Linked DNA regions of Homo sapiens: regions 2, 3 and 4 are each linked to region 1. Evidence: fine-mapped expression QTL. A gene starts in region 1. Each other region holds a variant in brackets. All regions are shown on one strand. Distances are between the middles of the regions.

Evidence for each region.
Region 2: its variant is fine-mapped to the expression of PARP11-AS1 in whole blood (TOPMed, PIP above 0.99).
Region 3: its variant is fine-mapped to the expression of PARP11-AS1 in blood mononuclear cells (TOPMed, PIP above 0.99). The same link has a PIP of 0.9 or more in T cells, lung and whole blood.
Region 4: its variant is fine-mapped to the expression of PARP11-AS1 in whole blood (TOPMed, PIP above 0.99).

What each region holds. Positions count from the first base shown.
Region 1 is chr12:3,867,368-3,873,074 of GRCh38, forward strand. PARP11-AS1 (PARP11 antisense RNA 1) reads left to right here and starts at 2,805. Exons shown (of 2, transcript NR_183432.1): 1 at 2,805-4,589. The region is part of intron 1 of PARP11 (poly(ADP-ribose) polymerase family member 11); the gene reads right to left. RefSeq lists a silencer at 5,700-5,707.
Region 2 is chr12:3,894,753-3,900,459 of GRCh38, forward strand. All of the region lies in intron 1 of PARP11-AS1 (PARP11 antisense RNA 1), which reads left to right. Among named protein-coding and RNA genes, the nearest start is that of PARP11, 24 kb to the left of the region's middle. The variant G/A (reference allele first, on the strand shown) is at 3,159.
Region 3 is chr12:3,903,114-3,908,405 of GRCh38, forward strand. The region is part of intron 1 of PARP11-AS1 (PARP11 antisense RNA 1); the gene reads left to right. Among named protein-coding and RNA genes, the nearest start is that of PARP11, 32 kb to the left of the region's middle. The variant A/G (reference allele first, on the strand shown) is at 2,079.
Region 4 is chr12:3,948,146-3,953,852 of GRCh38, forward strand. The region is part of intron 2 of LOC105369608 (a long non-coding RNA gene); the gene reads right to left. Among named protein-coding and RNA genes, the nearest start is that of LINC03141, 61 kb to the right of the region's middle. The variant A/T (reference allele first, on the strand shown) is at 2,454.

The DNA.
Region 1 (5,707 bases):
GGCTGTCAAGGAAAAAAGGTGCTGACAAGTTTCTGAAATGAGGGATGAGATTTTAAAAAACAAAAAAATTCTTCATAATGCTGACAATACCAAAAAGTAATTCTATGTTTTCTAGAGGCCTGCTTAAGTGGAGTATAGCAGAGATATATCTAGAATTTTAAATAGCGTGAACCTACTACTTCAGGGCCAAAATACCCTGATTTTTAATGCTGAGAATAAAATACCATATTTTTCAAAGTCACCAAGCTATGTTGCAAATGGCTCAATTGCTAGGATGTGATTCCTTCCCAAAACCTGATGGTTTTCTTCACTTCTTAGAGTGAGACTGATTACACTATTGTGTGTATAAAGAACATGACTAAATGTTAAAACAAAACATGGGAAAATACTTTCCAGATACTGAAGAAGTCAAAAAATGACTTAAGAATCCATTTGTTACTATCTTCCAAACATTCAGGCTGGTTGAAACATTCACCCTAATATTACAGGCTTCTCAATAACGCAACTGAAAGAGCACAAGATATAATCTTCAGGGAGAAATCTTCCGATAATTTTTCAGTCTGTATTTGACCTTGATATTCCTAAACATCTGACAGCGCCAGCAAACACAAGTTGCAATTCCTGACAATCTATAATTGTGGCACAACATTTCCTAATTTAGTAGACATACAGAGTAATCAAAATGTGGTCTAACCTACATCTCAAACTATTATCAAATTAGATATAAGTACTTTGTAAGAAGCTGCAAAAAAAAAATCATCCTTCTCAATGATAATAAAAACATTAATTTCTAAAATACTGTTTTATTGGGGGCCAGGCACGGTGGTTCACGACTGTAATCCCACCACTTTGGGAGGCCTAGGCGGGTGGATCACTTGAGTCCAGGAGCTTAAGACCAGCCTGGCCAACACAGTGAAACCCTGTCTCTACTAAAATACAAAAATTAGCCAGGTGTAGTGGTGCACATGTGTAGTTCTAGCTACTCAGGAGGCTGAGGCACAAGAATCACTTGAACCCAGGAGGCAGAGGTTGCAGTTAGCCGAGATCATGCCACTGCACTCCAGCTTGGGTGACAGACTACCTATAGACACTGAGGCTCAAATTTCAATTTCCAGCCCAGCCTTCTTCTCTGAGCTCCAGACTTACCTCCCTAACCAACTGCCTTCCAAACTTTACTACCTGATGCTTCATAGGCACATTAAACATAGTGAGTCCAGAACCAAACTCCTGTTATCTTCCATATGGCTCAGTGAAAACATCTTATTCCTGGCTGCCCATGCCAGAAAGCTAAGTCATCATCTAAGATGCAGCTTGAATTGATCTCCTCTCTCCCCACTTAGTAGTCACCTTCATAGGTGACTTCATACTTTCCCCACATAGTCCAAGTCACCTTCGTCTCTACCCTGGACTACACTATAACCTCCTAATTAGTCTTCCTACAGCCCCTTATCCCCCTCAGTATTTTCTTTTGCTGCTAGAACAAATTACCACAAACGCAGTGGCTTAAAAACAACACTAATTTATTTTCTTACATTTCTGAAGAAATCTTACATGCATCTCAATGGGCTAAAATCAAGGTGAGTTTGATTCCCTTCTAAAGGTTGTATGAGAGAATCTATTTCCGTGGTTTTTCAAGCTTCTAGAAGCTACCCACATACCTTGGCTTGTGACCTCCTTCCTTCATCTCCAAAGTCAGCCATGTTGTATCTCTTTGACCATTCTTCCATAGTCACTCCATGTCTTTTGTCCCCATGTTCTACTTTTAAGGACCCTTGCGATTACTTTGGGGCCCCCCTGGATAATCCAAGGTAATCTCTTTATCTTAAGGTCAGCTGATTAGCTAATTACCTCCCTTTTGCCATGTAACAACATATTTACAGATTCTGGGTATTAATATGTGGATATCTTTAGGAGGCCATTATTACGTCTACCATATTTTCTAATACATAAACTCATTTTCCACACATCAGCCAGAGTAATCTTTTTAAAAACATAAATATGTTCATGACACTTCCTTCAATGTGTTACCACTCCTCTAAGGATAAAGTTCAAAATCCTAAACATGTGCCTCAAATCCATGCATGGCCTGGTTCCTACCTCCTGGGCTTGTCTTCTGGTGCACTGTGTCCCAGCCACATAGGCTTCTCTCTTTTTCTCAAGCACCAAGCTCCTTTCTTTCTCAGGATCTTTGCTCACACTATCTCTGCTGTCTGAACAGCTCTCCCCACCTTCCAGCCAACCTTTACCTGGCTAACGCTTGCTCAATCCTTCAGATCTCTATAAAAGTTACTTTCACAGGGTGGCCTTTCCTGATTGCCCAGTCTAGTATTAGCTCCCCCTACACTGTCATAGTACTCTTTTTCTTTCATATCTTTTTATCACAATTTAAATTAAATGTATTTGCATAATTATTTGTTTAATATCTGCCTGCCTGCACCAGACTGCAAACCCATAAAGGCTGGAGCCTAGTCTGTTCTGTTCACCACTGTAAACCCTGGGACTTCGCACTAACTAGCTTATAACAGGTGCTCAATAAATAAGTGAGTGACATTACATGTTATTATATGACCAGCAGGCAGGTAGAGTATATGCAGTGTGGATATGCTGGACAAAGGGATGATTCGTGGCCCCAGGCAGGATGGAGCACAATGGCATGAGATTTTATCACACTACACAGTACAGTATGCAACTTAAAAGTTATTAATTGTTCATTTCTGGAATTTTCCATTTCATATTTTCAGACCGCAGCTGACTTCTGGTAAGTGAAATTGTGGTAAGTGAAACCAGGAAAGCGAAACTAAAATAAACTAACAAATTACTAGAGAAACCCACACGTAGAATGTTGATTTTTAAAACCAAATTGCGCTTACTGATATCATTCATATGCTTATAGGAAGAAAAACTATTAGTAGTAATAAAATACAGTAGCAGTAAGACAAATATGTCTTATTTGGGTGGCAAAAGAAGAATGTGAGATGATCTGTGGAGGATTCCCCACTTTTAACAAAAGTCAGCCTGCTCTGCTGAAATTAGCAAAATCACACAGGTGATTTCAAAGAAAACCCATTGCTTACAAAGAAATGAGATAATGATATAACAAATCAAGTATATAAGACATTCATTAATGCCTTTATAATTCTCACAAACACACAAATAATCCAACAGCAAATTCTGATGTATGTGTGACGCAGGAGGGAAAATTCATAGTAGGAGCAAAGAATTATCTTTAGTCCTTGCTGGTACAACCACCATCATGAATTCAACAAATATTTATTGAGTGCCTACTATGTGTCAGGTTCTGTTCTCTAGTTGAAGATACTATAGGAAAAATAACAGAGAAAAACCCCTGTCCTTGTGGATCTTACAATATAGTGAAAGATTTAAAACCTTGAGTAAGACATATACTTGGGTGGCTAAAGGGTTTGTTATGGAAAAATTAAGAAGGACTGATAACAAAAAGGGAATAATAGCTACATAAAGATATAAATACAAAATGAAGGTTGTTGATGACAGATAGTGAAACTGAATATATAAGCAGAGAGCACATTCTCATTATTCTAAATTATTTTTGCTAAAATCAAATACAAGTAATTACTTTCCTCTAATGCAGCTTGAAGAGAGTATTATACGTATGAATCGAAAATACTAAGATGATGACTATTGTTATATGATGCACAAGAAGGAACCATAATGTGCAACTACCAAATCCAGACCAACAGACTAGTTTCTACTGGATAAAAACTTAACTTAAAAACATAGGGAAATGTACTGATAAACTTTCTAACTTATCTGGAAATATATTCCAGAAATGAGAGGGGAAGAATACTGATTATAGGAAATTATTGCAAATATGGAAATTAGGGGTTATTAAAGTAAATTTATGCAGTTATCTCAGCATAGGAGTAGTTTCTTATGTTTCATACACAATTATGCATTGCATAAAAGCTTTCAGTCAACCATGGATCGCATATACAAGTGGTCCCAAAGATTGTTAACACTTTATTTTACTGTATCTTTTCTATGTTTAGATACATAAATACTTTCCATTGTGTTACGAATGCCTACAGTATTCAGTACAATACTATGCTGTACAGATTTCTAGGTTAAGAGCAATAGGCTATTCCATATAGCCTTAGGTGTGTAGCAGGCTTATGAAAGTACACTCTATGACGTTGGCACAATGAAAAAAATCACCCAGCAATGAACTTCTCAGAACATATCCCCATTGTTAGGAGGCGCACGACTGTATTTAGTCCAACAACTTGCTGAAATGTGATTCTACCATTTTTCCAGTCAACTCCTAAGTTTTAAATACCATACATCTGCCACCTTACCAGGCAGTTTCAACCATAACAACAGAAGAATACTCTTGGCAAATAGATCCCACTCTCTGAGGGTTGTGTTGGGGCTCAGAAAATACTACCCCGAAGTATGACACTTTGGCATGCTGAATACTTTGAACTAAAAGAGATTGGAAGGCCTCAGAAGCAGCCTCGGAAGCAGTCTCTCCCTCTGATCTCCTGCCCTTCTGTCTCCTGCCCATCTTTCGTCCCAGAAGTGAGTCACAGAAACCAGAATTCTTCCCCAAGGTGAGTGATAGAAACTAGGATCCCTCTCCTACAAAGCAAGCCATAAAAACTGGAACTATTAAGCTTTCCCTGCCATTGTCTATAGGAACTGGCCATAAAGAAATTCTCTAATCTACCTTGCCTGATAGTAGGTCGCTAAGACCCTCATTCCAGAAGGGACCTTCCTCCTCCGTAGGAGGAAGAAATGATACACAGAGAGGCCAAGAAGAATCTGAACAAACAGACCTTGCTGGGCTTCCTTCCTCAGTTTATTAACATTAGAGTATATCCTTTGTCCAGTCACATTTTTACACAGTTGTCTATTCTTCATGGGTCCTACGCATAAAAATAGAGATCTCCCTGGTCTCTGAAGTGCCTGGTGGTGTAAAACTTTGATTAGATTTGCTCTGCTTTTACCTTGTTAACCTATCTTCTGTTTTAAGGAGTGGTGGCTGTGATCCTTACAATGGGTGGTGAGGAAAGGTACTAAAGTTTTCGGCCCCTACGTTGCACTTTAAATAAATAAATGTATAAAAGCAAAGTAGACAAAGACACATGAAGTCATAATGAAAATACCAGAGTCAGCCAAGGAAGAAGGCAGACTTGCAGTTGAAATGCTCCAGATCACTTTGTCCACCGAACGAAAACATCTAAGAACATACAGTCCATACTCCAAGTTTTAAACGACTGTCCACCAAGAAGGGAAAAGGAGAACTGATGGCTCCTCTTAGGCCCATTCAAGACAAGGGGGTCCCAATTCCCTTGCTTTAGACTGGTGGGACTGGCAGGTAAACCTGAGGCAAATGACTGACTACAGGTTCCAAGGCCAGTTACTCCAATTAGAAAGCAAAACACAAAGTTTCAAAAAACAGTGAAGGCAGTCGGGAGGCTGAGGCACGACAATCGCTTTAACCCGGGAGACGGAGGTTGCGGTGGGCCGAGATCACGCCACTGCACTCCAGCCTGGACAACAGTGCGAGACTCCGTCTCAAAAACAACAACAACAACAAATGGTGAAGGGATGAGGCTGAAACATCACGGGAAGTAAAATAAATAATTGTAACAAGAAAACAATAAAGCATTGGAGAATCCACCCAGGCACTTCCACTGCTTAAAAAGGTACAGACTACAGAAGCCAA
Region 2 (5,707 bases), 27 kb after region 1:
AGCTTGATCATGTCACTTCCCTGCCTCCCAGGATAATAAGAGCAAAAATCAGTATTCAACACGATGTCCTGCAAGTCCCTCCACAGTATGGGCGCTTGTCACCTGTCAGACTCCATGTCTAATGGCTGTCTCTTTTGCATACTCTGCTCCAGCCATCCTGGCCTCTGCTCGCCCTAAAACATGCCGGGCACAGTCCACCTCGGGGTCTATGCACTTGTTCTTCCCTTCACCTGGAATGCTTTTCTTCAAAAAATCCCCATGGCTTGCTTTCTTACTTCCTTCAGGCCTGAATTGAAATTTCACTTTCCCTGTGAAGAGGCCTTGATTACCTTCTTTAAATACCCCCCTCTCCCAGCCTCAAAGTTTCATAACCATCAGTTACCCTGCTTGATTTTTCCCACAGTCTTATTACCAGTTGACCAAAGATATTTACTTACTTGGTTTTTTCACTTGTCTATCTCTCCTTACTGAAATGTAAGTTCCATGATGGCAGGGATTTTTGTCTGTCTGGTTCAATTCTGAATTCTCATTGCCTAAACTGTGTCCGACATGTAGTGTGTGCATAATAAATACATATTCACAGAGTGACTGAATGAATGGATGGATCTCTCCCTTCAAAATGATATTCAGATTCCCTCTATAGTCTTCATTCTAACTACCAGCCCCCATTCTGGACTTACCCCTTGAGGTCTGTGTTTCTGTGATGTTCTATGCACTGGGTATCCCTCTAACACCAGAACCAAGATGAAAAAACAGATTTCCTGATCCTCAGCCTAGGTTCTGTCCACTCTATGATCTACGACGTGCATATTTTCAATGGTCTGTTAGTGGTGTCTAACCACGAAGGCAGGCTTAGCCAGACATTCTGATCGTGCCCAAGAGTCCTATTTAGAAGGTCATATGAACAGGCTCTCTTGCCCATACATACAGGCTTTAAAAAGTTGAATGATGTTCTTGTTAGACTCTGTGGTTTAAGAAACACAGTGCAAAAGGGAGTCCATTATTGGGAATGGAGGATCCTGGGACAAGCTGAGTGAAACAAGCACACTCTTTTTCGGAACCTCTTAAGATTCTGGGAGGCCCTTTCCAGGGGAATAATAAGGCCGAATTGAGTGCAAGAGACATATCTTTGATTTTCATAACCTTTGCTCCCTTCTTTTCCATATGGCAGAAGGCTTTCTCTCAGAAACCAGGAAAAACAATGGAGTATCAGCATAGCCTAAGGCAGTGCAAACTCAAACATCTAACAGGACCAAGCGGGGAATATAAATGAGGGGGAAGGTGGGGATTGGGGCAACCTGGAGAGGGCAGATCGCCACTACTCCACTTGGCCAATGGTTTCCATGGGGGAAATGTAGGGCCAGAGGTTCTCAAAAGTAGCTAGGATTCTAGAAGTGAACGTAAAATCTCCTAAGTTATAAATGTCGGCAATAAATCTAAACATTTTTTTAAATGCCATAGGGTCCAAAAAACACATCTTTGGGTGGAATGGTTTTGTGAGCTGCTTACCTATACCCGTAATGTAGGAAAAAGCACATGAGCAGTCCAATCACACTGCCTGAGTTTGACCCTTGGTTCTACCCACTGGTTTACAAAGTTACTCTAAGTCACTTAACTTAAGCTTCATTTTTCTCCATCTCTAAATCAGGACAGTGCTTCCAGGACTGACATGAAGATTAAATGAAAGAACGTAGTTGCTACTCAATATTAATTGTCCTTGTTTTTTGGATCTCTGCTCCCTCCCTTTTTTCTCATTGCACAATGAACTAGAAAAAACAGTTCCTCCACATTCTTATTTAAAGCAAACTAAGCAACGCTTTTTATCATTTGTCAGATTTTTTTTTACCATGATGAGCCTAAATACACTGTACTGGTTTCTAATCAGACCTCATTTGCAGCTGTGATTTTTGTGGTGGTTGTTGTTGTTGTACTATTTTGTTTTGTTTTGTTGTTTTGTTTTCAAAGAATGAGAGGACAGAAGAAGCATTAAAGCAACATTCTTTCCAAAATTAAATTCTGGCAATACAGTCTCCAGTGATCCTGACTAGGAAGCAAAGGGAAGACCCCGAGCCAGCAGGGGAAGCCCTCCAGCACTCTCAGGTTTTCAAAGAGCCTTTACAAAAGCACTAAGCAGGGCACATCACCGGAGAAGAAAAGCAAAGAGTGTCACAGGCTTGTAGCCATAGTGTTAGCAAGGCTGGGGCTCAGAATGAGCTGAGACTTGCAAAAAATGCTCAGGAACAGCAAAAAGAGCTTTGTGCAAGTATATTCTGAGCAGGAAGAATAGGGAAGGGCCAGATCCTGTGCTTGGGGCAGATGGTGTAATGCTAGCAGATGACAGATACAAAGCAGAATTATGCAACTCCTACTTAGCTTCCATCATCTCTATCTCTCAGAATGATCTTCAAACTGGAAAGAACAATATAAACACTGCAAAGAAGCAATTGCAGCCCTAGTTATGAAGCTCTTTAGAAAATGAATACCTGGGCTCTCTAAATAAGCTTAGATCTCCAGGCCCTGACAAATTCCATCCCTGGGGACTGAAAGAATTTGTAGATTTAATCATAGAATGATTGTCAGTAATCTTTCAGGAATCTCAGGAGTGATGCCAGAAGATTAGTGATGGGCAACTGTCCGAGTTGTCAAAAGGGGAAATATGTAGGTTTGGGGAACTTTGCACTGTTGAGTTTAACTTTGATCCCCAGCAAACTGTAAGCTGCATTATTAAGGAGTTAGATTACAATCGCTTTGAAAAGGAAGTGGTAATCTCAAGAAGCCAGCACAGGTTATGTAGAACAAACCATGTCATACTAACATCACTTCACATTTTTTTCTTTTTTGAAAGATTACCAAAACTCTCAAGATTGTCCCAGAGGTAGTGAATCTTTCAACAGGGCTTCCGACAACACATTTTATGGTACAATGAATGGATAGGGCCTGGGTGATCTATGGCTTGGTGAAGGCACAGCTAGGCAAACCATTGTATCCAAAAAGCACTGGACAGGCGGGGCCAAGTCAACTCAGAGAGAGGTGTAGCACAAGATGCCGCTAGTCCTTGTTTGGTGCCCGGTTCTGTGAAAATCCTTTCAATGACATGAAAGAGATGCCAACATATAAATATGAGTTGACACAAAATGAAGAAGTCTAAGTAATATGCC[G/A]CATGACAGAAACAGGATATGGTGGTTTGCCTGAACAAGGAGCCAAAATAAGCATGATGGAATTTAATGGAGAAAATGCAAGTTCTTCATATTGATTAAAAAAAAAAAAACTCAGTTATTCAAATTATTGACAATAGTTAATGGGAAAAAGTCTTGAAGATTGTAGTTAACAAAAAGCCCAACATGAGCCAAAAAATTCTGACATGGCTACAAAACAACTAGTGTTTGCCAGGTAGCATAAGGGGAATTGTAACAGGCAGAGCAAGGGTGATGAGGGTGCCATTGGCCCATCTGCCTCAGAGCATGAGGGCTTATTCCTGGTACCATGTTTCTTCTTCACATTCAACTTTGTGGTCTTTGTATTTTGTAAATCACGAAAGCAAAATATATTCATAGTAGAAAACTTAGAAGTACAGAAATGTATGAAGAAGAAAACGAAAATTAGCTCTCATCATTTGGAGATCACTACTGTTATCATTTTGGTATATGTCCTTCAAGTCTCTTCTGGAGACTTGTGTTCCATGAGGCACATGGAAGTACTAAAAATGTGGGTTAGGTAGTGTTTATATTCTACATTAAAAAACTAACATTATGTCCTGAATTATTTCCTCAACTTACATATTCTTTGAAACCCAGTTTTAATAGTTATACAACATACTATTGTGTAGATATGCCATAATTTGTTTGAATTGACTTGCTCTTGGACATTTAGGCTGTTTCCACTTAGATGTGGTGGCAGGAAGGTGGCACTAGATTTTAAAAGGGGATACTGACAAAGCAGTGATCAGTCCAGGGAGGATAACTGGACTAGTGAAGCATCTTAGAAACCACGACCTGAGAGGGGCAGTTCAGAAAACCGGGAACGTTTATTCCAGAGAAGGGCACACATAGACAACTCTGATAGCTGTCTTCAAACCCTTGAAAAGCTGTCAAATGAGAAAGGGAGTGAATTAGTTTTGTGTTGTTCCAGAGGGCTGAACTAAGACAAGTGGACAGAGGCTGAAGGGAGTCTGATTTCAGCTCTATTTCTAACAATGCCCACTGTCCACAGACAGGCTGAGCTGCTTTGTGAGGGAGTAACATCTCCATGACAGCAAGGTGCAAGCGGAGATAAGACAACCACCTGGGTCAGGAACTTGTAGAGAGGATTCCTACATGGAGTGGGAGACTGAAATAATAACCTCAAAGATGCCTTCCAATCAGAAGATTTGGTGATTCTTTCTGAGTTATCAAACTGCCTTCCTTTGACCTTGCTCACATGTAGAAATCCAAGTCAGGTAAGGAGCAAAGAAGTCAATGACATTAATCTCACTGCTAGAGTAAGCACTGTAGCTCAGAACTAGAACACACGTCTGTGTACTTGGCCTTGGCTCATATCTAGGTAGTTTTTTACAGTCAGCAAAGCACTTTGCAGATAGAACTTATAGTTTAATTCTTGTAACAGCTTTGGGAAGTAGATATTGACATCATCCCACTATTAAAGTTGAGAAAATTGAGGCCCAAAGTGCTGGAGTGACAAAACCCAGCCATCCACCTCTAGTTCCTTGCCACTTCCCAGGATGCAATGCTGCTGTTCTCTGTGTGAGTTCCTAGTGCACTCTTTGATGGGCTGTGAAGGTTCTTTGTCCTTTACACTCTGTATTTGGTGTCTCTTCGGCTACAATTTAAACACTTTAGGACAAGGGTTTAAGGGCATGTTATTTTTCTTTTGTATCCCATCCTCCCACCGCCCAGTGATCTTTCTAAAATGCACATCCGATCATGCCAGCCCCCTGTTTTGAGTTCCTCTTAGGCTTCTTGTTGCTTGGCACAGAGATGCCAACCCATTTGGGAGGGACTGCGGATCCAAGAGTGGTGCACATTTCAGAATCTTGGGAGGAAGTGAAGTACGACTTATAGCATATAGAAGCAATACAATAATTATTTGAAAAGAAAAATCAAAGCAATTTGTTCATGAATACGTTTGTTTTGCTTACCAGAGCTATATATAGGCAATACTATAATTCTCGACACTTTTAGGAGAGCACATTATTTTGAGGGTGCGTGAGACTTTCATTTTCATCAAAGAAGCCATGAATTTTGTTGTTGTTTGTGGAACCACAATCTCAAAAGTGAAAACATGCCATCTCTCATATCTCAGATTTCCATATATGTATGGGCTTGTGTCTGGACTCTCTTTCGTCTTCTGTTAGTTTGTGGCTTCTGTGCCACAGTCATGCCATCTAATTATCATGGCTTTATAAAATGTTTTGCTCTCTAGTCGGACAGCTGCCTCCACTTCTTTTCCTCCAAAATTGTTTTTGAACCTTTGTTCTGTTACATTAATTTTAATATGAGCATTTCCAGTTCCATAAAAAAAGTATTTTGATTTTGATTGTAATTACACTTGATTAATATATTAAAATTGAAGGACAGCTGACAACCTAATGATATTGAGTCGTCCCATCCATTTATTTGGATGTGGCAGGACCTCTTGGTTGCCTACTCATCAGTACTAGCCCACTCCACTTCCTTTCTTATCTACAGAGAATGCTTCCCATATTAGAGAC
Region 3 (5,292 bases), 36 kb after region 1:
CCACAGGGGATTGGTTCCAGGACTCCCTGTGGGTGCCAGAATCCACAGATGCTCAAGTTCCTTATATAAAATGGCATAGTGTTTGCATGTAATCCATGCACATCCTCCTGTATACTTTAAACCATCTCCAGATTACTCATAATACCTAATACAATGTAAATGCTATGTAAAGATTTACTATACTGTATGTTTTAAATTTGTGTTATTTTTATTGCTGTATTCTTCTTTTTAACTAAAAAAAATGTTTAATCTCACGTTGGTTGAATCCAAAGATGTGGAAGCTGTGGATATGGAGGACTGACTACATTATCTTCTTTTATTTTTTCTGTTTATTATGTTTTTCTTTGCTACTTTTTTCTCCCTGTTTTCCTCTGCGCTTTTGGAGTGATAAAGTTTTTATAATTACGTTTTTCTCTGCCTGGATTGAAATCTATATTGTGCACTTCTACTCATTAAATGATTATCCCTATATTAGGGCCGGGCGCGGTGGCTCACGCCTATAATCCCAGCACTTTGGGAGGCCAAGGCGGGCAGATCATGAGGTCAGGAGATCGAGACCACGGTGAAACCCCGTCTCTACTAAAAATACAAAAAATTGGCCGGGCGTTGTGGTGGGCACCTGTAGTCCCAGCTACTCGGGAGGCTGAGGCAGGAGAATGGTGTGAACCCGGGAGGTGGAGCTTGCAGTGAGCTGAGATTGCACTACTGCACTCCAGCCTGGGTGACAGAGCGAGACTCCACCTCAAAAAAAAAAAAAAAAAGATTATCCCTATCTTTAAATATTTAACAGTTATACACTTATTTGTATGAACAAATCTAAACTTTTTTGGTAATGTTATTCTCTTCTTGGTGGTCATACATATTCTGTATCTGTTAAAGTCTTCCCTCCTCTGTTTTATTACTATTTTCTTTAATTTTAACTTCACACCTCATTCCTTTTTTTTTTTTTTATGGAGTCTGGCTCTGTCACGCAGGCTGGAGTGCAGTGGCACAATCTCAGCTCACTGCAGCCTCCGCCTCCTGGCTTTAGGCAATTCTCTGCCTCAGCCTCCCAAGTAGCTGGGATTACAGGTGCCCGCCACCAAGCCTGCCTAATTTTTGTATTTTTAGTAGAAATGGGGTTTCACCATCTTGACCAGGCTGGTCTTGAACTCCTGACCTCGTGATCCACCCGCCTCGGCCTCCCAAAGTGCTAGGATTACAGGTGAGAGCCACAGCACCTGGCCCATCCCTCATTGCTGAATGAGAATTAGCTAGATAGAAATTTCCCTCAGCAGTTTGTAGGTATGGCTTCATTATCTTCTCGGGTTCAATTACCTTCTTGGTTTCTATTCTATTACACCTTAAATTTTTCATAGAAAAATGTAAGATGTAACTTCAGTCTAAGTGTTAATCTTTTTTAAGTAATCTATTTTTCCCCACTGGCAGCTTTTCCTTTTATTAATGATGCTCTGCAGTTTCATTGTGATGTGGACCTGCATCAAAGTGCACTTTTGATCTGAGTTCTCATATTTTTCTCTAACTCTGGAAAATTCTAAGCTACAATCTTTTCAAATAATGACTTCTCTCATTTCTTCCAGTCTCTTTTCCTTTCTCTGGTACTCAAATTAGAGATGTGTTGGAGTCTCTCAGTCTGTCCTGCAGGGCTCATAACTATTCTGCTCTTTTGAATTTTATATTTCTTTGTCTCTTTGTACTAGATCTGGGTAAATTTGTCAGTACTCTCAATTTACCAATTATCTCTTAAACTGTGCCTAGTCTAGAGATTATCGTAAATATTGGCTTTCTTATTTCCAGAATATATTTTTAAGTTCAAAAATTTTCAGTTGATTGCTTTCCCTGTCTACATGTGGTGGTTTGCCCCAAATTTGCCCCATCCCTTCATATATGCCCCTTTGCAATGTGACTTTGACACTCTGACTATCAATAAGTGGGGTATACCTCTGCAGCCTCAAATCTGGTCTTGTCTATGTGACTTGTTTTGAGCAGTGGCCATTGGCAAATATATAATTCAACAGAGGCTTGAGAAGTTCTTGTGCATTGGAGTTTGCCCTTTTTTGGCTGCAGGAAACCCTGCT[A/G]TCACACGGAAGCAAGCCTAGGTTAGCCTCCTAAAGAATCACAAAAAGAAAGACCCTAGCTGTCTGAATGATCTGAGCTAAGTCCCCAGACGTGCAAGTGTGGCCATCCTAGACCACTGAGCTCCAGCCAAGCCAGCTTGCATCAGAAGAACTGTCCAGAAAACTCACAGAATCATAAGAAATAATGCAGGTTGGTTTTTTAAGTGACTAAGTTGTGGGGGTGGTTTGTGATGCAGCCGAAGGTAATTGATATACTGTGTTGTTCCATTTCTCCCTGTTTTGTTTCCCAATATTTGTTCACTTTTAAGGCATCTAATTCCTTTTCCACGTCTTTAGTCACCTTAAGTGTTACTGTTCAAGTCTTACTGTTCAATTTACCGTTTAAGTCCTTGACATACTGTTTCATAAAATTATTCTCAACTGGAGTGAACTATTGACTTTCTTGACTGTTTTTCTTAGCGCTTATTTTCTACATATATTTTGGAAAGTCTGCAGGCTTATTTTGAATGGAAGGCATTTTGTTTTGTTTCACTTGTTCTGCTTTTTCTTGTACCCAGTTGAGAAGTTTTGCAGATGCTTTCACCCAGCACGCTGTACTCTTGGTCCACAGCTGAGTCTCAAGATAGTTTTCTGGGGCTCCTGGCCCACAGTGATATTGAGAATATTACAGAGCCAGTCACAGAGCTGGCTTTGAATCAGCTGGCTTCATATCAGCTTTAAATTTCTAATCAGTTCCTGTTTAGAAGGCCGGGTCTTGGATCGCTGTAGTTCCACAGCTTCTGAGAACGCCTGGCTTTCAGCAGTTAGCCTGGTTCTATCGTTTCTTGAGTAGACACTTAGTTTCTATTATCCTATCCAAGCCACACTCCTTCCCATCGCTGCCTGGTTTGGGGTCCAGAGCCCTGCAAGCCCACGGCTTTACCCCCCTCATGCTTGCAGTCATCCATAAAGATGCTTTCTTCTTGGTTTCAAGTTTGGGTATTTTTATTATTATTATTATTATTATTTTAGACAGAGTATCACTCTGTCACCCAGGCTTGAGGGCAGTGGCGCGATCTCGGCTCACTGCAACCTCTGCTGCCCAGGTTCACGTGATTCTTCTGCCTCAGACTCCCGAGTAGCTGAGACTACAGGCACCCGCCACCACGTCCAGCTAATTTTTGTATTTTTAGTAGAGACGGGGTTTCACCGTGTTAGCCAGGATGGTCTCGATCTCCTGACCTCATGATCCCCCCGCCTCGGCCTCCCAAAGTGCTGGGACTGCAGGCGTGAGCCACTGCGCCCTGCTAAGTTTTGTATTTTTAGTAGAGACAGGGTTTCACCATACTGGTCAGGCTGGTCTTGAACTCCTGACTTCATGATCCACCCACCTTGGCCTCCCAAAGTGCTGGGACTATAGGCGTGAACCACCGCGCCCGGCCATGTTTGGGTATATTTTATTAGGTTTGTTTTTTCCTTGTCTATACTTTGTCTTTCATGGTCTTTTACTTAGAACACAGGGAATGTGAAGAAGTGTGAAATTAAGGGGAGCCCGTTTGACCGGAGGTCCATTTCATATAATTTTATCTAAAAATTAAATATAAGCTTAAGCTGGCATGCAAGATCTTTCACAATTCAGATCCGCTTCCCACTCCCACTGCTAGGCACCCCGCACTTCACTCACATCAAATTGCCTCCTGTTTCCTGAACACAGCACGTGCTTTTATTCTTTGGGGCACGTTCATATCCAGAACAGCCCTCCTGCCACACCTTTCATCTTCAAGACCTTCATGAAAACTCATTTCAACTGGGAAGTTGGCTCCAGATCCCACAGATTAAGTTACTTCTTCCTTCTCTGTGCAGCTGGTATTGTTACATACCTTTATGTAGTGCTCTCTGTATTCCTCTATATTCTATTTCTATATACTACTTAATGTCATCGAATTGTGAATTTTAGTACTTATAATCTCCTCCAGGTAGGCTGAGAGCTTCCTGAAGACAGACACTGTCTTTTCCATATTCATATTCTTGGAAGTTAGCAAAGGGCCTGGCACAAAGTATGCACTCAGTACACACGTACTGAGTAAATGAATGAATGATTCATATGATGTGCAAGATAAAGTAAGCATATAGTACATGTGGTTTATTGCCATATTGTTATGTCCATAACAATTGCTGTTTATCTAAGTGTCTGCTTTGGGCAACATGAATGTGCTATATTTATCCACTGCACTTAGAAATAAAGAGAAGGCAGCGGACAAATTTTTATCCTGAAGTTTGCCTTATATAACTACCATTAAGCTAACTCTGTGCAGAAGACAATTGACATACTCCAATACACCTTTTGTAAAAGTGTGGTTTTTACAACTCTTAAGGCAACATGAGACAGTCTCATTTCCTTCCTCAATTTCATGGCATTCTTCAAAAAAGAGTGGAGGAGGATGTTAGCACGAGTTGTTATCTTTCTTTTTTTTTTTTTTTTGAGACGGGAGTCTTGCTCTTTCGCCCAGGCTGGAGTGCAGTGGCGCAATCTTGGCTCACTGCAAGCTCCGTCTCCCGGGTTCACACCATTCTCCTGCCTCAGCCTCCCGAGTAGCTGGGACTACAGGAGCCCGCCACCACGCCCGGCTAATTTTTTTGTATTTTTAGTAGAGACGGGGTTTCACTGTGTTAGGCAGGATGGTCTCGAACTCCTGACCTCGTGATCCACCTGCCTCGGCCTCCCAAAGTGCTGGGATTACAGGCATGAGCCACCACACCCGGCCCGTTATCTTTCGAGCAAAGTAAAAATACGATGGAAAAAGCTCTAATATGTGTAAATGCTTTACAGTTATAACAACTCAGTTCTATCTTTCTATCAATTATAATTCTATCTCAGGAGAAGGGTTACGTTTTTTGTTCCTTTTTTTACAAAGAGGATGTAATTTTGGTACCAAATGGCATGCTGTGTGAGCAAAAATATTTGTCTAATTGTCCAACTTTTCTGGAATCCTTCAGGATACTATTTCTTCCTCAGAAACAGAATGAAGGCTCTGTGACATGGAAGAAACAAAAAGGTTTTCATTCTGGTGGGAGTTACTTGTGCTTTCATTTCCTCCAGCTCGATTGCATGGCTATGGCAAAAACAGAAATTCAACTGAGTAGAATTTCTGTTCTAAAAACATCTAAAATTCATCTCAAATCTGTATCTTTTCTGGGGAGAGAAACTAAATCCAGTCTAACAACTAATTAAACA
Region 4 (5,707 bases), 81 kb after region 1:
TGTCGTCCAAGCTGGAGAGCAATGGCACAAACTTAGTTCACTTCAACTTCTGCCTCCCAGGTTCAAGTGATTCTCGTGCTTCAGTCTCCTTGAGTAGCTGGGACTACAGGCGCCTGCCACCACACCCAGCTAATTTTTGTATTAGTAGAGACAGTGTTTTGTCACATTGGCCAGGGTGGTCTCGAACTCCTGACCTCAACTGATCCGCCTGCCTTGGCCTCCCAAAGTGCTAGGATTACAGGCATGAGCCACTGGATATGTATCTTTTTTAATAATTCCTTTCCAAGTAGATCAAAACCTCCTTGAAAGTAATAACCCTGTTTCCATTAGGACTGGCCACAGAATTTGTTGAGCCCAGTGCAAAATGGAAGTGTGGGGCTCCTTGTTCAAAACATATTAAGAATTTCATGATAGTGACAGCAGCGCGTGAAGCTAAGTGAGGGGACTGAGTTTGAGGCCCTGTGAGACTGCACAGGTTGCATCTCTGATTCCCATCTTTTAGCACAGAACTTGACATACAATAGGTAATTCCTTCACTCGACAGGTATTTTGCATGCAGTATGCTAGGCTCTGCTCTAGACTCTGGAAATACAGTATGGAACAAAAAAGAGAAAAAGTCCTTGCCTTCACGGAGCTACATTTCTTTCTTTCCTTCCTTCCTTCCTTCCTTCCTTCCTTCCTTCCTTCCTTCCTTCCTTCCTTCCCTCCCTCCCTCCCTCCCTCCCTCCTTCCTTCCTTCCTTCCTTCCTTCCTTTTGAGACAGAGCCTCGCTCTGTCACCCAGGCTGGAGTGCAGTGGAGTCCTTACCTTCACGGAGCTAAATTAATTTCTTTCTTTCTTTCTTTCTTTTGAGACAGAGCCTCACTCTGTTACCCAGGCTGTAGTGCAGTGGTGCAATCTCAGCTCACTGCAACCTCTGCCTCCCGGGTTCAAGCGATTTCCCTGCCTCAGCCTCCTGAGTAGCTGGGACTACAGGCGCCCACCACCATGCCTGGCTAAATTTTGTATTTTTAGTAGAGACGGGGTTTCACCATGTTGCCAGGCTAGTCTCAATCTCCTGACCCTGTGATCCACCCACCTCGGCCTCCCAAAGTGCTGGGATTACAGGTGTGAGCCACCGCACCCAGCATCCCTGGAGCTTAATTTCTATTGACAGTGGTAGGAAGTGAGAGGGTATACAATAAATAATAAATAAGAGATATAACTTAGATGGTATTGAGGGATGTGGAGATAAATAAAACCGAGAAGAATAGAGAATGAGGGAATCAGTATGAAACCAACCTAGCAGCCCCACAGACAGTTCTTTTGGATAAACATAAAAATGGACCCTTCTGATCTTAAAGCTTGAAACTTGCATTTGTTTTATCTGAGTTCCTTCCTCAGGAAAGGACCCCCAGGCCTCTCAAAGTATCAAAGAACTAAAACTCACCAGATCAAAGAACTACATCAAGACAATGACACCAGGTCCCCCATTTTGTTTCCTTACCCCTTCCTAATTCTTGTTTTCTGACACATTGTTACATTTCTTCCCTGCTATAAAAACCCCTAATTTTAATTGGTCAGAGAGATGGATTTGAGACTGAGCTCCCATCTCCTTGGCTGCAGCACCCGACAAAAGCCTTCTTCCTTGGCAATAATCGTCTCAGTTATTGGCTTTCTGTGCAGTAAGCAGCAGGACCTAGACCAAACCCCTGGTGTTTCGGTAACAAATAAATATTTGTTAAATGAATGCAATTAATTTCTTATTAAACTCAGAATAGAATGGCAATGTATACTTTGAAACAAATGAAAAACAGACCCAGGGAAAAATCAACACAAGGAACAAATAGAATAAGTGATGTTTGTGCTACAAATTTGGTTCTGAGCTTCCTGGTAACCAAAGTAATAAGAAATGACCAATTACATAATTCTTATCATCAGAAAGAAGGAAGCATACCTATGTCCTAGGGCTAGAAAGAGAGATACAGTATACCTTTAACTTCCTTACAGAACCAGACGACATTGCAGCTGTGAAAATAACTTAAATAAACATAAGGTACTATGATATACAGGGAGGTATTCATAAAGAATTCTTCCACAAGATAAAAGAGAAATTTTTCATTGTAACAGCTTTGTTTTTCCTGGAAGAGTGCTAAGAAATTCATCTTTGTAGGCAAAGAAACTTTCAAATAGGCTAACATCTTAAAGTTGAAATCTAACAATCACTTCAGCCCACAAACATTTCAGCCAGTCTGTACAAGTCCCACCAATTTCCCTTCCTGACCCTTGGTAGAGTAAGAAAAGTGCCCAGTGCCAGGCGGGCAGTGATATCAGCCTCCCTCCACCATCCCAGCTCTGCACCCATTGAAACTAAAGCTGCCATCGCCTTTTCCTTCCACTCCTCCCTCATAACCCTAAGGCCCCAAATAGGAGCAGACCCAGGAAACCAGGTAGATCCATTCTCAGAGACACGG[A/T]CATGTCTTGTCCACACGCAGACTGAAAGCCCAGAAACTGCCGGCTAAGAGCAGTGGAAAATGGCCCCACTCATTCCTCTCCTTCCTGCCATTCTCCCTGTCTCTTCCTCTCTTTATCTTTAATCTCTCTTGCCCTACATCGCTTGGTCTTTCTCTCTGCTTTCTCTTCTCCTCACGACCACCACCACCATTTACTTAGGGGATGTTCTACATATTGTTAGTTCACAGAGACAGTTGAACAGGAGAGACAACTGAACAGAGGACAGCACATGAACATAGACCAGGCACTGTCTCTGTGCCTGTTATCCTGTGTCTGCATGCCATTCTCCCACACACTGACACACCAAATAAAGATCTGTGTCTATTTCAGAAAGACAGAGATTGATGGGAAACAAATGAATAAAAAGTGCCAGCTGCATTGACTAACATTATCTTTTATCTAGATAGGAAAAAAACAAAACAAAACAAAACAAACCACAAAACACCTCTTTAGATCAGAAATGTCCCAGGACCTTCAAAGCGGCCTAGAGAAGTTGCTTTTGTGAGTATCTTAAGCACGATTTTAAACGAGCCTACAAATTCCCTCAGCCACCTGTTTGAGGCTGTTCTGACACCAAACATCAACTCATGGAGACCAGCTACTGCCAAAAAGAGAAAAATCTAAGTGTTTCTAACAAGGATGTCGCGAGACTATTGAATCTGGTTCCATGTGAATTTCCCTGTAAAATGTGAAAGAAAAGGCATTCTCAACCAGCCACTGTTTCTGGCACTAACAATTGACACAGCCCGCTCATGGGTATCCCCTAGGGTGTGAAAGAGACCCCGTTAATGAGAGAGGAGCTTGCTGCGGGATTTCTATTTCAGGCCTTGTGCTAGTAAATATAACTCTGTTTACACAGACTTGAGTCTGGAACGTGCTTGAGCTGCACAATGGCTGTTTGAATCACACCTTAACGTGGTCTTTGAAACTCTGAGCTGTGGTACGTGTGGTTGTGTCATTTTCTTTCTTTCTTCTCCGCCATGGTGTAATTGGAAACTCTTCTTCCGTGACTTGCATCGTATCCCTGTAAACCAGGCAAGGATTTGGGGACCAAGCCCATTCACGCCCGCACCTCAGGTGATCTCGTGCCTGAGAATTCACAAAGAATGCCCTCCCCTCTCTTCACTGCATCCTGTCTCTAGAGCCCGCGTCACTGCATCTTCCCACCTCCCTGGACACGGCCTTAACCTCATTTTTTTCTCTGGGGCACCGCTGCAGTTCGGGCAGGCTCTTGGACTCCGCAGGAGCCCACACCGCATTGATGCCCTGTTCCCTGGGGCGCACTGCTTGCGGGTGCCCATCAGGACCAGCCCCCGTGGTCTACCGTGGCACACTAATGCATCTGTGAAGCTATGTGGTTTGTTCCCACCCTGGAGTGTCTCTACTGAGCCATTTCTGTTTTTACTAGTTTCTCTGCCTCATTTATCTCCAAATCTTGTCCATTTTACCCTGAATCTCTTTTCTTTCTCTATTTCTGTTGCCAAAGCCTTAGGCTACGTCCTCATTATTGTCTTAATTATTACAATAGCCTACTAATTTTCTCTGCCAACGGGCTCCCTTTTCTAATCCATCCTCAACCTCGCCGGCATAGTTATCATTCTTCTTTTCTAATATAATATTTAGGATCATAACTTTTTCTTTAAGTCAAGGTTTCTTAACCTACGCACCGTCACCATTTGGGGCCAGATAATTCTTTTTTTTTTTTTTTTTTTTTTTTTTTGAGACGGAGTCTGGCTCTGTCGCCCAGGCTGGAGTGCAGGGGCGCCATCTCGGCTCACTGCAAGCTCCGCCTCCCGGGTTCACACCATTCTCCTGCCTCAGCCTCCCGAGTAGCTGGGACTACAGGCGCCCGCCCCCACGCCTGGCTAATTTTTTTGTATTTTTAGTAGACACGGGGTTTCACCGTGTTAGCTGGGATGGTCTCGATCTCCTGACCTCGTGATCCGCCCATCTCGGCCTCCCAAAGTGCTGGGATTACAGGCGTGAGCCACCGCGCCCGGCCGATAATTCTTTATTGTAGGGGGCTGTCCTATGCACTGTAGGGATGGCAGCATTTCTGGCCTTTACCTGCTAGATGGTAGTAACAGCTGCCCGTAGTTGTGACAACCAAAAATGCCCCTAGACCTGCCAAATGTCCCCTGAGCAGCAAAAGTCCCCCTATTCAGAACCACTGTTCTCTGTACCTTATATTCCTCCAGTTTTATGTAGGATTTTAAATTTTGTTCTGTCTGAATATTTATTTATTGCTATTATACTTTTTTTTGTGATCCACGAGTTAATTAGAAATGTTTTAAATTCTAAACATTTGGTGTTGTTTTCTTTTAAAGTCACTTTTTTGGTTGTTGTTCATGTCTATCTTAATTAGATTTTGATCAGAGAAGGTGAACTATATGGTATTTATTTTTTGGTGTTTGTTAAGACTTGCTTTGTGGTTTAGTAACTTGTTAATTTTTCAAATATTTCTTGTGCATTTGAGAAAAATGTACAGTCTTCAATTGTTGAATACAAGATTGATCAATCTTGTTCATTGTGTCATTCAAATCTTGTAAATTCATGCCAATTTTTATGCGATTTGAACATACCAGAAAGGTGTGTTTTTAAATCTCCTATAAAGATTCAAAATTTTCTCCTTGTAATTCATTCAAATTTTGTCTTATACATTTTTAAAGTCTATAATAGATAAATACAATTTGCATTTGTTATATCTTTCTTATAAATTGATCCTTTCATCATTATATAATGATCACTTTTTGCCTCAGACTTTTTTTCTGCTACAGTTATTATAGCTACACTTTGTTTTGACTCTTACTTGCCTGGTATATCTCTTTTTATCCTTTTGCTTTCAGCCTTTTTGTTGTGTCCTTTTGTCTTAGGTATGTATTTTTAAAACAGCATAAGCAAGTTTTCTTTTTATTAAAAAAAATTGAACCTGGCAATCATTTTTTAACTAGTGAGTCTAATTCACTTACATTTATTGTTTCCTAATATATTTGGATTTATTTCCACCATTTCTTTTTGTAGTTTCTATTTACTATGCTTTCTAATGCCTTTTCTTCCTCCTTTCCTGCCTTCTTTCGGTTTCATCAAGTTTTCTTTATTTTCCCCTTTTCCCTCTATTAATTTGGAAATTACACACTCTATTTCCAGTGTTTTAGTGGTGAGCCCTAAACTTTTGTCAAGCACATTTGACCTAAAGTCTAAAGTTAATGTTACT